Regions from separate parts of the Homo sapiens genome. Here region 2 is linked to region 1. The links come from fine-mapping of genetic effects on gene expression. Tissue or cell type: tibial nerve. Region 1 holds a variant in brackets; the other region holds the start of a gene. All regions are shown on one strand. Distances are between the middles of the regions.

The links. PIP is the estimated chance that this variant, and not a neighbour inherited with it, causes the effect.
Region 2: it holds the start of PLEKHF2, and the variant in region 1 is fine-mapped to the expression of PLEKHF2 in tibial nerve (GTEx, PIP 0.97).

The regions. Positions count from the first base shown.
Region 1 is chr8:95,096,874-95,104,979 of GRCh38, reverse strand. It overlaps a transcript of NDUFAF6 not described here. Among named protein-coding and RNA genes, the nearest start is that of MIR3150BHG, 28 kb to the right of the region's middle. RefSeq lists enhancers at 4,096-4,155, 4,486-4,575. The variant C/T (reference allele first, on the strand shown) is at 4,312.
Region 2 is chr8:95,130,354-95,138,441 of GRCh38, reverse strand. It overlaps PLEKHF2 (pleckstrin homology and FYVE domain containing 2), which reads right to left and starts at 4,657. Exons shown (of 2, transcript NM_024613.4): 1 at 4,412-4,657. RefSeq lists an enhancer at 434-583 and silencers at 4,096-4,255, 4,276-4,915.

The DNA of each region.
Region 1 (8,106 bases):
TACCCTCCATGGCCCCAATTCTAATCTTCTGTCTTTCTGGGCATCCTTTTGTTTCCTGATCCTGTCACTAACAACTTTATTCTCTCAGAGAGAAACTCTGGCTGCCGCAGCTCATCTTTCCCAGCCAGGCCACATGATCAGTGCTGACCAACCAATGTAGTGCTGCTCGAGGGTCAGGTGCCCAGCCTGGAACAATCTACCTTGCTGTGAGGGGGCTGCAGTCACATAACAAAAGAAACACAGAGGAAAGGGTGAAGAGAGCCCAATGGCAACTGCACACACAATGGAGTGTGTTACAGTGGGATGAGGAAGCCAAAGATTAGGAAGCATGACTCTTTTAGAATGGGCAGTTATAATGGCCTTTGCTCCAGAGGGGACACTATATCTTCCAAGGCTGTTCACTACATAAACATCCTTAGACGAGGCTGAGAAAGACAGTCCAGGACAAAAGGAAAGTCAGTACCTTTGTGTTTAAAGGTACTGACTTTGTGTTTAAGTGCAACTGTAAGATGCCTACTTTCATAGGGAGTTACAAATGTAAATGCGTACAGGGACCAGGCAAGTAGGTGTGTGAGCGAGGTGACTAGATATAAGAACTGGGAGTAGTGGGGATTGCAGAAGATAGGAGAGGCCATGCTCTATTTGAAACTGGCAGCCAATACTCAGTTCCAACTGATTATTTCCACGGAAGAATGAGGATCCCAAGTTGTTTCACCTCTTTTTTCCCAAAAGAACTAGGAAATGTGAATTTTTATGTGCTATATCACCCACCCTTTAAATGTTGGTAATGAATTAGAATTTAAAATACAGGTGCAGTGGCTCACAGCTTAATCCCAGTACTTTGGGAGGTGGAGGCAGGAGGATTGCTTGAGGTCAGGAGTTTGAGACCAGCCTGGGCAACATAGTGAGACCTTGTCTCTATCACATTAAAAAATAAAAATAAAATAATGTTAAGTGGCCAAGAGAAAACCCGAAGAAGCAGTGGTTGGAACTGATGGAGCAGCCTTATAAAGGAAGAAGCAGGCTCTGATAGACACCTGATCTCCCCCAAGTGGGTAGTTAAAGCCCTGGTTGATCACAGCCTTAATGGTAAGCCCAATCAATTAAGAGAACAAAAAGCTAGGGATTGTGGAGAGAACTCTGCTAGAATCACAATCCTGTCCTCTTGCCCTACTCCAACTTCTTCTCCAAGAAAGAAAGAATAGCTTATTTTATTGGGAGTTCAGACAAAAGAACCATGCATGCCCGGACTGGCTCACTCCTATCCTTCTCTTTGAGATTTGCCTATCTCCAAAGAAAGTCACTGGATGTCTATGCCATATGTTTTACAGCAGCCAATCTACATAGCAAGAGGGGCAGGAGGTCAGGGAACAGGGTCCTGTGGGCTGTTTAACACTACCAGAGACCATGACACAGGGTCAGCCCCTGAATGTTATTCAATATGAACTTTTCTCAGTAATAAAGCTGACATTTTATTTGCCATCCTACTGATTTTTGAGACAATTTCTCAATTGTTTCTAAATTTGGTTAAGAAAAAGGTGTGGCATTTATTTATCCATTCCAACTCAAACAGGCATTATTATTATTTCCACTTTACAGGTGAGAAAACAGTCATTGATTGATCGAGCTATATCTGGCCCCATACTCTGTTCCTAACAACCACCAGTACAGTAGATTTTTGCCTGCCTATCAGCCATTTCTCCCTCTTCTGGTATCAACAGGTTGATTTTCCTTGGAATTTCCTCCATACATTTGACAGGGGTAAGGTTGACTCACTCACACCTAAGGGCTGACCAATCAGAGCCACAAAACCACCTGAACACTATGATTGGCTCAGGAACAAACATGTGACACAAGCTTGGCAAAACAGAGTCAAACTTAATCTGGCATAATGCTGGGGGACAAAAGTGCTCTCTTTGCATCGGGGTCACCAAAATGAAGGGCTAAAAGCCTGGAGTTGCCACCCACCATCTTGTCGTCATAAGGTACATGAGACTGTAGAGCCTGTAGAGAAAAAAAGGAAAGCAAAGTTGGTGTGCGGCTGTCAGTTTATTGCCTCTCAGCTCCATATTTACCCTTCATCGTTTGTTGAGCAAAAATCTAGCTGGGCCCCAAAGTATTTTTTTACTATTTGTCATGTTATTAAACTTTTTCAGTAGAGGGCGCTGAAGAGACACTGCAGAAGACATACAGTTTGCTTCCTGGTTCCAGTGTGTTCACTGGGAGCATGGCTGCTTCTCCAGTGTCCAGCTCTTGCAACACTGACAGCTCCTCTAGCACCTGGCTCCTTCAGTACCAGCAGCTTACCAGGGCACCTCCCTCAGGTACCCATGGGAAATACTTTCCCATGAATTGCTTTCCTGAGCATCCTAGAGATGAATTTCCAGCAAGTTCCAGGGAATAGATTTCTAGCAAGTTCCACTGACACTGCATAACAGCAACTCCTCTGTCAATCAATGAGACACAGCCATGTGCTCTTTGACAAGTTCTGGGTCTCAACCCAGGGGGTCAGGAGTGGGGGGCCAGCAGTAGCAGATTCTTCCTTAGGTGCTCTATCTCAGCCCTAGGAGAAGTAGTACTCCTTAAATCTGCTATTCCTGCATTCTTTCAAATTCTCTTTATTTCTTACTAGCCAATCCACTGTTATCCCAGCCCCCTGTTAATAGTTAATAATTCTTTAGATTGGCTGGGTGTGGTGGCTCCTGCCTGTAATTTCAGCACTTTGGGGGACCAAGGCATGTGGATCACCTGAGGTCAGGAGTTCAAGACCAGCCTGGCCAACATGGTGAAACCCCCAACTCTAGTACAAATACAAAAGTAGCTGGTTTGGTGGCGGGCACTGTAATCCCAACTACTTGGGAAGCTGAAGCAGGAGAATCACTTGAACCCGGGAGGTGGAGGTTGCAGTGAGCCGAGATCATGCCATTGCAGTCCAGCCTGGGCAACAAGAGTGAGACTCCATCTCAAAAATAAAAAAAAAAAAATACTTTTTTAGATTACACTTTTCCTAATGTTCAAATGATCACGTGGCTGCTCTCTCTTGATGGAACTGTGAATGACACAGATGGCAGGTGACACCAGGCCCTGATGGCACTGGCTGAGCCTGGATCCAGCTGGGTCAGAAGCTGCCTCTTCCTCTGCACTTTTCAGTTACAGAAGCCAATTTTTTTTCTTTACTCGAGTCATTTTGAGTTGGGTTTTCTGCCTCTGTTAAATTGAAGAATCCTGATTACAGAAGCCACAAAAGGGGAATGAACAATTAAGATAACAAGAAATGTTTACCTAGGAAGAGTCATCTTCTGAGGGGATGATATGAAAACTATGCATGTGTCCATCACGTGAAAGCAGAATTTCAACGTTAGGGTGCACTTGAATTATATGACTGTAATATAATTTGTCATATGATGACCAAATTAGGGCCAAGGGGTGGAAGTTACAGAGACAGTTCATCATGACAGCATGAGGAAGAGCCTTCCAGCAATTCAGTGTTCAATAATGGAATGAACTGTCCTGCCCAGCTGTGAGCGCCCTGTCTCTGGAAGTTGGGAGACAAGGAGTGCCCGCCACTCTCAGGTATGTTGTGGAAGAGGTGATTGCATTGGGTGGGAATTGCAACCAAGTAACCAATAAAGTCCCTTCCAAATCTAAGATTCTACTATTATGCTTGCAGAAATTCCTTAGCCTAAATCCCATTAGATGGTCCCAGCTAAGAGAAAACCAGACAAGGGCAACATTGTGCATTATGTGACTCACTTGGGAACTGAGGGTGCTGCCAGATGTTATCATCAGATGAAAAGAAAATGGACTAAGTCACCAGATAGGGGTGTTTAAATAAAGCCTTCTTTGCCCTGTTAAGAACACAATGTATTGCAGGCAATTACTATAAGTAAAATCATTCTGAAAATAAGCACATTAAACACTTGGTTTTAATTTGACTCAAGCATATTTACCTTGAGATTGCTTAAACAAATAGGTAAATTAAAAGTGCTCTGAGATTGGCTTAACCCAAGAAATGGAACATTAAGCTAGGAGGCAGCCAACACTGATTCTATTCCCGCTTTTTACGGTAACCTTGGGGCGAGGGGGGTCGGGAGGGAAGAGAGCAAAATAACTTGGTTTTGCTGAGCTTTGGTTTGTCCAACTGAAAGAACAAACAAAGTAATAGGCACACCTACTTTACAGAGTATGTGAAAGTTAAACAGGAAATGTCTACAAAAATAGAAAACAATGTATTAGTTTATGGACACAATGGATATTTTGAGTCAGAATCTTCATGCAAAGGTTTCTGGGTATAAATCATACTGGAAGCTG[C/T]GTCATTTAGCCAATACTTCCCAACCCCTTCTGAACTAATATAGCTTCTAAAGACGTCCAATCCAAAACTAAGCTAGCTCTCGCATACAGGATAAATTGGTTTAACATAAACAAACATAGAAAGTGAAACTAAGACTTACAGTAAATCAGTAACACAGTATATTCAAAGGCATAATATATTCAGGAAGCAGAGGCAACTTTGCCTCTGACATGGAGTAGCCCTCTAGACCAAACATTTCAGATCATTTCCTTTTCATTATCAATAACTTTTTCCTCTTCTTTAAGAAGAAAAAAATCCAGCCATACCTCCACCACAGTTTTTGTGGAGCAGAACCTGCTTTCAAGTTAAATTGTTCACTTTGTCTTCTATGTACTGTTGTTCTATTTATTTAATTTTTTTTTTTTTTTGCATGCAGACCACATCCTGAGGAGGAAATCACTTTTAAAACCTAATTCTTACGGGTATCCTCATTTCAGGAATGTTTGTGATTGCTCATTTATTCCTTACACAGCATGAACTAAGGCAGGAAATGATTAAGAGGGGAGAAAGGTAGGGAGAGCCCTGGATTGAGTCCCCACTTGGTTTAAATCAATTTCTAGATGAGATAGGCTAATCCTTGTTCAACTCACTCCAAGCCTCACGTATGATTTAAGCATCATTATCTGTAGCCCAGACCAGCACTAAAGAGCCTAGACACACCTGCGCATGTTCTCCCAAAGCCTGGGGCAATGAAAAGGCATCAGAGAAAACATTTAGAAGCTAAACTTCCATTAATGAAGGATTATTTTATAGGCACTTGCAGATGCCGTATTATAGGAAACGATTTAGTGATGAGACAACAGTAGTGGGGTAGTTAGGAATGAGAAGAGCTGAACTTCAAGATGGCTTTGTGCCCCCACCAAGCCCCGGTAAGATGAAGGCTGAAGCTCCATAACTGGGAGTGAGTAGAAAGAAAAAGTAGAACATCCAAGAAGAATCTAGTCTCCAGAAGCTACTGCTAGGGGAGCTCTCCTCTCTGCTAGGGGCAGGCGAAACACTAGGAATCCTTTGTTTATTCTTTTTCTTTCTTTTTCTTTTTTTTTAATTTTGAGATAGGCTCTTGCTATGTTGCCCAGGCTGATCTTAAACTCCTGGGCTCAAGGGACTCCCCTGCCTCAGCCTCTTTAGTAGCTGGGATTATACCATGCCTGGTATAAGAACTCTTTACGCTCAACCCCTTACATGAACTATCAGCAGTTTTGGCCAGATGACAGAAGTGGGTGCAGGCAGAGAATATGGAGGAAGGCACAGATGAGAGTGGCCATTTTTTTTCTTTTCTTTTTTTTTTTTCCAGCTGGAAGCCTGAGAGAATTGGTAGTCTCTGGTGGTTGCCCAGAAGAAAGAATATACTCTGAAAGAGACGCCAGCTTTTGTTTTGTTTTGTTTTTTGAGACAGGGTCTTGCTCTGTCACCCAGGCTGGAGCACAGTGGGGCAATCACAGCTCACTGCAGCCTCAACATCCTGGGATCAAGCAATTTTCCCACCTCAGCCTCCAGATTAGCTGGGACTACAGGCACCTGCCACCACGCCCAGCTAATTTTTTATTTGTAGTAGAGATGGGGTTTCACTATGTTGGCCAGTCTGGTCTCAAACTCCTGACCTCAGGTGATCTGCCTGCCTCGGCCTCCCAAAGTGCTGGGATTACAGGCGTGAGCCACCACACCCAGCCTAGAGCCAGTTTTTTGTTTTTTGTTTTTTATGTTTTTGAGACAGAGTCTTACTCTGTCGCCCAGGCTGGAGTGTAGTGGGGCGATCTTGGCGCACTGCAACCTCCACCTCCTGGGTTCAAGCAATTCTCCTGCCTCAGCCTGCCGGGTAGCTGGGATTATAGATGCGTGCCACACGCCCAGCTAATTTTGTATTTTAACATGGCAATATGATCTACTTTGAATTAGATCCAGTACTTTTGCAAAATGTTCATAGAGTTTTTAATAAGACTTAGTTTTTTTGTTTGTTTGAGACGAAGTTTCGTTCTTGTCGCCCAGGCTGGAGTGCAGTGGTGCGATCTCGGCTCACTGCAACCTCCGCCTCCCAGGTTAAAGCAATTCTCCTTCCTCAGCCCCCTGACTAGCTGGGAGAGATTACAGGTGTGTGCCACCATGCCCGGCTAATTTTTGTATTTTTAGTAGAGACGGGGTTTCACCATGTTGGTCAGGCTGGTCTTGAACTCCTGACCTTGTGATCTGCCCGCCTCGGCCTCCCAAAGTGCTGGGATTACAGGCGTGAGCCACTGCACCTGGCCAAGACATACATTTTTAGTAGAGACGAGGTTTCACTATGTTGGCCAGTCTGGTCTTGAACTCCTGACCTCAGGTGATCCACCCACCTCGGCCTCCCAAAGTGCTGGGATTACAGGCGTGAGCCACCAGCCCGGCCAGAAGCTAGTTTTTAAAGAAAATGGATCACTCCAGATTGGGGTATCCATTGCTTTAAACATCTTTCCCCCAGTTAGGAACGCTCCAGATGTAGCAGTAGAGATTCATTTTGCTTACTCTGTTAAGAAAATTCACTTTTGGAAAGCAAAAGGGACTCCAGATCAAAACATCACCACCAAGACATGAGCTGCTCTCAACAGAAACCTGTTACAAATGAGGAGCTGTAGAAAATAAGGAAACTCCTCTCACCTTTCTTACTGTTGCGTAGCAACCCCAGACAAAGGGATCCAGAACCAACCACAAGTCTCCCTCAAACTGTTGCATGATACTTTCTGCTCCAGTAGGCCTAGAGATCTCTCACTAGCCACAGATGAGGAATTTGCAAGGTATCTGACAGTCATCAGATCCTAAGCTTGCCAGTGCCTTTGCATTTTAGAAGTTAGGTCGTTTGGGAGCATACCAACTTCTAAATGCTTAATTTTCAACTGAAGAGCCACCAATACAGGCAGAAGATGGATTCTGTAACTATATTTTATTTTATTTTATTTATTTTGAGATGGAGTTTCACTCTTGTTGCCCAGGCTAGAGTGCAATGGCGTGATCTCAGTTCACTGCAACCTCCACCTCCCCAGTTCAAGCGATTCTCCTGACTCAGCCTCCTGAGTAGCTGAGATTACAGGCACATGCCACCATGCCCGGCTAATTTTCTGTATTTTTAGTAGAGACAGGGTTTCACCATGCTGGCCAGGCTGGTCTCAAACTCCTGACCTCAGATGATCCACCCGCCTCAGTCTCCCAAAGTCCTGGGATTACAGGCGTGAGCCGCTGCGCCCGGCCAACAGTATTTTAATGTATACTATTCTACATCTATTGTCGAACATTTAGGTTGTTTCCAATTATCTGCTTCTACCAATTAGGCTGTTACCAATAAGGGGTGTACTTTTGCTACATGAAATTGAGATGTCTTAGTTTATTTTTTTGTTATTCATTCTTAGTCTCATTTCATTTGTTGTCAAGGAATGAAGCCTACACCATTCTCCATTTGGAAATTTGAGGCCAGGGGCATCATGTATTTTGGTAATTTCCCATGGACATTTGAAAAGTTGGGACGTTCTCTCTAAGTTCATAATGTACATTTCCAGCCAGAGATGAAAACGTACAAATGAGTCTGTTCACTGGCCCAGGGGCCCAGAGAGTGTGCGTCTCTCCTTAACCCCCTGTTAGGCCTCATTGGGTAGGATCCCACCAGTATTGCTGCTGATGAGCTGCTAGAGGTCCCTGCCTAGCCCCTGGAGGTCTCCTCTCTGAAATTGCACAACATCTCTGCCTCCACTTTGGCAATTACGAGGAAAATGGCAAACACAGAACCAACCCCTTCC
Region 2 (8,088 bases), 33 kb before region 1:
TTTCTTTTTCCCCAACTGTTGTTTAAATGAAACAAGTACAAAGAATTAAAAATAGTTCCACTTCTGAAAAAGGGGCGGGGGGGGGGGGAAGATGAAGAAGTTGGTGCAAAGAAGAAAATAGAAAATTCACATCATAAAATCTTAATCATTTTAGAAGGAAGTAAGGTCATCTGCTCAACATGTTTCGAGACTGGGGTTAGCAACCTGACTGGAGTGAAAAAGCAACAGAGAAAATAAGTCAACTTGGGGATAAGAAAAGGATTAGAAAGTAACTAGTATAAAGCAGGTAGAAAACAAGTATGTAATGATCACCAAAAGCGTGACTTTGGGGGAGAGTGTAGGGCAGGGACAAAGGTAGAAAACTGACCAGTTACACCCAGCAAAGGTCAAGGAGAGGAGGGACTATGTGGTCTAGTGAGTTCATGGTTAGAACATGAACTACAGAGTTCAAGGTTGAAAAGAGGGAAGACAACTAATGGCCTAGGAGGGACTGGAGGTGACAATAAGGACAAAAAGCTGCTTAACCAGTTATGACAGAAAAGAGAAAGAGAAAACAGACCCTTGCATCGCCATCTGGCCACAGGGTTTAAGACCTGAGGTAGAGTGGTTCTGAATGATGACAAGTAACATGGTCACAACATGCAGGCTGCTGTTGTAGAGTAGCAGTGGGGGTCACCGGAGTTAGTGAAGTGTAGTTCCAAATGTGGCCATTCTGGCCAGAAATGAATGTAACCCTTACTTAACCTCTATGCACTTCACTTTCCTCAGCTGCAAATATTTAATACATCCTTTCTAGCCTGACTGATAGGAATCTGGCTGGCAGCTAACCCCTCTGCATTTTACTCAACTACAAAATGAAAAGCATAAGAAAGGAGATGGGAAATTGAGTTAAATCAAAGGTTCTCCACCTGACTGAACACTAAAATCGGGGATGTTTTAACAAAGAGGCAAAATTACCTTTGTTCTGTCCCCAAACCCAGTAATTCTGATTTATTTGTCCTGGGGTGGGATCCAGGCAATATTCTTTTTAAGTAGCTCTTCAGGAGATTTTAATGTGCAGCCAAGGCTGAAAACTGAACTAGGTATTCCTACAGGCTGCTTCCCTTTAAAAATTTTTAAATTCTATGATTCTATATAATTCACTGCCACTCTGTTCATTTGTTAAAATAATAGCTACTATCGTATTCCAGGCCCTTCCACAAACATCGAATCTTGGGTGACCCTCACGCTAACACTGAGGCAAATATTTCTGTGCCCATTTCACAAATGAGTCCAGTGAAGCTTACAGAAGTGAAGCGGCTTGTTCAAGAGTCACAAGCCAGCAAGGAGCTGAGTCAGGACAAGGTTTATTTGTTCCAGTCCATCCTACATGCAACTTGCTTTCTTTCCAGTGCATTCACAGCAACTATTTGAATGCCTTTTATTCTCTTCTCAGGACCTCCCTAAATTGAGCACATTAGTTTGTGGTTTACAGTTTGACAGGGGAGAAAGTTATCTTGGGTGGGGGCAGGAAATAAACCCCGAATTCTATAGGCATTATAGAATTACAAAACACCTTAACCTAGAGAGGTTTTCCAACTTAAAACAGCACTGTGAAAGTGTATCCATGAAGTATTTTTTATTCAGTTAAGTCAACACATACATTGCTTTTAAATATTAAGCAGGCAGCTCATGTACAAAGCTGGTTCATCAAAGATAAACAACAACAAAAAAATTTTTCATATACTTTCTATTAAGCAGGGCATTCTAAAAATTCTAAGACAATTCCGGCAAAACAATAATTGATAGAGCTATAATGAGATTTGTTCCAAGAGCTTAAATGTATAAATATGACCTTTAAATTTTTCAAGCATTAACAATATTTCCATCAAGTTCAAATACATTCAATCACACTTAAAATTATGATTATAATCCTTTTGATGATCCATGGCTTCTCTCTCATACATCAGTAATTATACTTTAATCCATTATCTACTTAGAAATTTCATAAATATTCAAGTTCTGTACCCCCAGGCGAAAATTCACTCAGGTACTAAGTTAAATTCTCAACAAAACAACAACAAAACATGTGTGTGTGTGTGTGTGTGTGTGTGTGTGTGTGTGTGTGTATATATAATAAAAACCAATCTGTGGATTTAATGGAGTTGATGGCATGTATTGGGAAAAAGACTACAAAGAAGATTTAACTATGATGCTCATGGAATTTACAATTTCAAAAGAAATTCATGAAGCATATTTACAAGGAACAAACATACGTGTACTCATCCATTCAAACCTTTCCTGAGCATCTGCTATGTTCTTGGCATGCAGGGAATGAAGAGGCAAATCAGACCCGATGTGTTGCCTGCTGTCAAGGAGATGTCATGACAGAATCTATGCGATATTTACAGTAATACCATGGGAGAAATTAATTGATTTCTGGAGAGGGCAAGGGAGTGGAATGAGAGAACAGAGCAGAAAAGGCTTCAAAGAGTATAGGCTTAAGTATTTTTAAGGAAAAAATTTCATCACAAGGATCACCTGTAAATCAGCTCGCTGGGAAATAAGTATTTATACTGAAGAACTAAATTCAAGTCAGAGCAGTGATAAGAGCAAACGAGATGGACAGATTGCTCCAGAAGACTGAGTTATGTATCCTACAAAGTTATGCTACAGGAAAAATGAAAAGGCTTCAGAGTCATAAGATCTCAGTTAAATACCAGTTTGGCTGCTACATTTGTGAAATTAGTTAATTTCATTTCTAAATAAAAAATGTTATAATGCCATTTACTTGACAATGAAGCAAAACTAAAAGAATTTTTAAGAACAACAGAAATTGGCAATACAGCCTGAGCAACATGGCAAAACCTTCTCTCCACAAAATTCAAACAAAAATTAGCCAGGTGTGGTGATGCGCTCCTGTAGTCCTAACTACTCAGGAGGCCGAGGTGGATCACCTGGGCCCCGGGAGTTTGAGGCTGCAGTGAGCGGAGATGACACCACTGCACTCCAGCCTGGGCGACAGACAGAGACCCTGTCTAGGAAAAGGAAAAGGAAGGAAGGAAAAAGAGAAAAAAGGAAAAAGAAATTGACAATCAAATATGAGCAGAAGCTGTATTTTTAGATCTAAAAAGTAAAATTCTCCAAGAATTTGGGGTTTTAGGGCTTACTGTATTTGTGTTTAAGAGCCTTTTCAGTTCATTTAACAGAATTTTAAAGCAAGATGTCTTTATTTAAAAATCATTTAGATTCATTTACTGAGGCTGAATATTTTCTTCTGAAGCTTAGTCACTATACTAGTTTTATTTAGAGGCCGATTACGTGTGCTTTCCAAATAAATAGCTTAATACCATTCATTCCCCGTGTGGTCGGGACCCAAAGAGATTATAATGAAGCCTTCGTTAATACTGAATTAACGTGAAGACCCCACGAGCTGCCAGAGTATTTAAAAAAAGTAAATGCTCAAAACGCGGTAGGCATTCACCCTTAAGAAACTAAAGGGAGGGGAAAAAAACTTCAAACTGTCAAGATCACTTCTTATTCTTAAGAGAACACATGCCTTTAAGACTCTCAAAGTTTCTGTCTAAATCTTTCTTTAATGAGTCTCTTCAGCAACGTACTACACAACACGACAAAGAAGGCATTTATCAACAACGCGTTTTGTGAGTCTATGAATTACCGAGGAGGGCTTAGGTGTCTGTAACCTTCATACCCACTTCCACCGCACACTCAAGTTATTGCTGGAATGTACGGAGAGCACACAAGGCTATTCAAGCAACACCGGCAGCGCGCTCTCGGCCTTCAATCACATTTTTAAAAAGAAAAATAAATTCGTCAAAGGATCATAAAACTTGAAAAGGCTCCAAATAAATAAACCATCGCTTCTATCAGAGCAAGTTCTGCGGGGCCATTTTCGTCTCCCAAGTGACATACAAATATGTAGTTCAGGTCATAAGGTCCCCGACACGCAGACCCTGCAAACTTTTCGGCCAGAAATTTGTCGCGACCCTGAGACGCCCCCGGCCGTGTCCAGGACCCCCGTCCTCAGGCCCCACAACTTCTCGCCCGGCCTCGGGGCTCCTTCCCGCGTCCGCCGGCCCCCGCCCCGCAGACCCGTGGACCGGACCCTACCCGGCGGCCCCCGTCCCCCCGCGGCGGCGGCGGCGTCCTACGGGCGGGCGCGGCTCGCTCCCGGGCTGGCGGGACGGCGGCGGCAACTGGCCCGCGGGCCGGCCCCGGCGCGAGGGGAGCGGCCGGGAGCGCCCCGTTTCTCACAGACCCCAACATGGCGTCGGCCGCCACCGCCCGCGACGACGACACCTCCCGGCGCTGCGACGGCTCCGGGACCGCGGGAGGAAGCGCCCGGAAAGTTTCGCGTCTCCCCTCCCGGCCCGTCAGGAGCCGGCGGACCACCCACCCGGGCTTCACCTACCCCGACGGCCGCGGGCGGCGGCGGCGGCGACAGCGAAGGCGAAGGTCCGATCCTCCTGGTCGCGGACGCAGGGCGCGGACTCTGCCCGTTCCCCGCCGGGGCCTTCCAGGGTGTGTGCTGTCCGCAGCCCCGCGCAGCCGGCGCGATCCAGACGCGGTGGGCGGGCTGGCCGCCAGCGCAGCCGCTCGCAGGTGACTCCCCCGCCCCTCCAGTCGAACCCGACAACGGCTGCCTGGGCTGGCCTCTCCCCTGCGCGCGCACGGGCGCGCCCCCGTCCACACTCCGGGCGCGAGCGCGCGGGCACGAGCACACCCACACCCCTCGCTCCCCGCCCTTTCTTGCCAGTTCCCTCGCCCCGCCCCTCGCGCCCCTCGCGACGCGCTCTAGGGGCGGGGCCTTTGGCGGAGGCCACACCCACTCAGGCCGGCCGCGGGCGGAGCTTGTCCATGTGTGAGGTCGGGACGCGCTCCCGCGACGCGTTGAGGTGCACGTGAGGCGCCTTACCTGACTTTCCTGACTCCGACCAGCCCTTAGAAAGTATTGCTCAACTGTCTACGAAGTTCTTAGGGAGACTGGAATAATAGAAGGAAGACACCTCCCCACCCACAACAGGCCTCCCCGGGGAACTGAAGAACGAGAAAGGCAGGCTTTGGATCTAAATGCCCAAAGGCATCGGTACTGGCATTTGCTGCTCCCATTTAGCACAGCAATCCTTTCCGTCACACTTTCCCTTTGCTTTACCTAAAATCCCTCCTCTTGAAACCAAGGGAACTGCGGCGACACACACATACCCTACGTGCTCCACCCAGCCCTTTCTTTTAAATGCATACTTTAGAATTCTGGTCTTCCCAAAACTTTGACGACACAAAACCCCATCAGCCTACTTCACATACCTAGAAACTGTAATTATTGCATAGTATATAAGGTTAAATGTGCCCTAATTGATCTGATAGCTAAGCGCTCTGATGGGTTCGTAGAGAGGTAACGAAGTTGCTTAGGGTAGACTAGGGATGGGGGCGAAGTAGGGAGAACAGCATACTTATTTTAAACAAAGTGTGTGTGGTGTGTAGGAGGAAATTGGGTTTTGGTAAATTTTATATTTCTTATTCATCTATTACTTCAGTAAGTTGTTTTAACCTGTGTTTGATTGCTGTTGAATTAGAGTCACTACCAGCCAAGCTGCACGTGGATGAGCACCTAGGGATGAGAGCAGACTTGGGTTCCGCCCTGCTCTTCCACCTGGGATCTTCCTCCTCCAGGCTTGTTGCCTCCTATCCTCCCCTATTTCAATAGAGTTTGTCTCTGAAACAAACAAGTCTTTTTTTAAATTAATAATTAGAACAAAATTGGCAAAGATGAACTTTTTTTAAATGGGGAAAATTGTATGATCACACACACACAATCTTTCGTGTGTTAGAGTTGTCTCTAGATGAGTACAGATGTCACCAGGACGCTTGTCCGTACCATCACTCTACCTCATTCACCTCTACGTGCACAGCAATATCTATCAGTGGGGAAAAGGCAGGACTAAATAATGCCTAAAATCCTTTTAAATTTTGAAAGTAGGAATTGCTATGTCTGACTGGTTGTCTAAGGTCAAGCCTAGAGCATTAGTTATCAAATATTTTTGGTCACTCACATTAGTAAAAATGTTTGCCCTCCTCACTTCCCATGTACTTATTTAGCTTAAGTAAAGTGCATAGATAGAAGCCAGAATGACTGTAATCAAACATTGGCTTTGTCTCTAACAACCTTGGCACATCCAAAGATAACTTTGGTTTTTTCACTTGTAAAATGGAGATAATAAAAGTATATCACAGAGTCATTATGCAGATGAAATGAATTAATATATGTAAAGCATATACCTGGCACACAGTGCTTTACAAGTGTGAAATAAAATTATTACATACATAATATACACATTTATATAGTGCTACGTAAGTGTGAAATAAAAGTTGTTACATATGTAATATACCCAGCTACTCAGGAGGCTGAGGCTGGAGGATCACTTGAGGCCAGGAGTTTGAATCCAGCCTGGGCAGCATAGCAAGACCCAGTCACACATACACACAGAATTATATGTATGATATATATAGTGTGTATTTATATACACACATACACCTATTATAATATACCTAGTATGTTAGGTACATTAAAAAACAACATACACACACAAAAAAATCAGAAATAATGATTTTAAATATATATATGTATGTTTTCTTTCTGTACTCTTCATAGTCTATGCCCTCCCTGGGCTGCGTGCACCCCAGTTTGGAGACCGTTGATTTAGATCTGTGCTAACAAATACAGTAGCCACTAACCACATGTCTTAATTAAATGTAAATTTATTTAAATTAAAAATTTAGTTTCTCAGTCACACTGACCACATTTCAAGTGCTTAATAGCCACATGACTATTGGACAGTGCACATATAAAACATTTCCATCATTGCAGAAGTTCTATTGGATAGCACTGACCAATCTGGAACAAAGCAGGGAACTCAAAAGTCACTGAAAGGAAGTAAGATTCACTCCTACCCGAACCTGTAATTGTGGTACCCTGTTCAAGTCAAGTGATAAGACAGCTCTTTGAGCCTCACATCTCAACCGTAAAATGAAGATAAAAATAGGAATTACTGGCCAGACACGTGGCTCACGCCCAGCCCCATCCTCCCACCCGCCCAATTTTTTTTTTTTTTTTTTGAGACAAGAGTCTCACTCTGTGGCCCAGACTGGAATATAGTGGCGTGATCTTGGCTCACTGCAACCTCCACCTCCCAGGTTCAAGTGATTCTTCTGCCTCAGCCTCCCAAGTAGCTGGGATTACAGGCATGTGCCATCATGCCTGGATATGTTTTGTATTTTCTTTTTAGTAGAGACGAGTTTTCACCATGTTAGCCAGGCTGGTCTCAAACTCCTGACCTCAAGTGATCCACCTGCTTCAGCCTCCCAAGGTGTTGGGATTACAGGTGTAAACCACCACACCCGGCCTATAATCCCAGCACTTTGGGAGGTCGAGACAGGAGGATTGCTTGAAGCCAGGAGTTCAAGACCAGCCTGGGGAACATAGTGAGACTGTGTCTCTACAAAACAATTTTTAAATTAGCTGGGCACTTGGAGTCCCATCTCCTCAGGAGGCTGATGTGGAAGGATTCCTTGAGCCCAGGAGGTCAAGGCTGCAGTGCAGTGCAGTGAACAATGATCCAGCCACTGCACTCCAGCCTGAATGATGGAAGGAGACCCTTTCTCTTAAAAAAAAAAAAAAAAAGAAAGAAAAAAAAAGGAACTTCCTCATAAACTGCTGAATGGAGGAAATAAGATAATGTGTAAAGTGTATGACACATTGTTAAAACATAGAGGAACTTGAAAAGATTAGTAAAACTTGAGTTTATATTTCCCCAATTTGTTTTTTTAATTTTTTACATTTGAAAATAAGAGATTGGGTCTTGCTTTGCTGCCCATGCTGGATTCAAACTCCTGGGCTCAAGGGATCCTCCCTCTCAGCCTCTTCAGTAACTGGGATTACAGGCATGCACCACCAAGACTGACTAACCCGATTCTTTAATCCTGAAAGGCAAAAAAGATCACGTTATTGTTCTTGAATCTAACGTGTATCTTGTAAAAGTGAATAGTTTGGTTAAGTTTTAATTGAAAATAGAACATTCAAGAAATGATAGG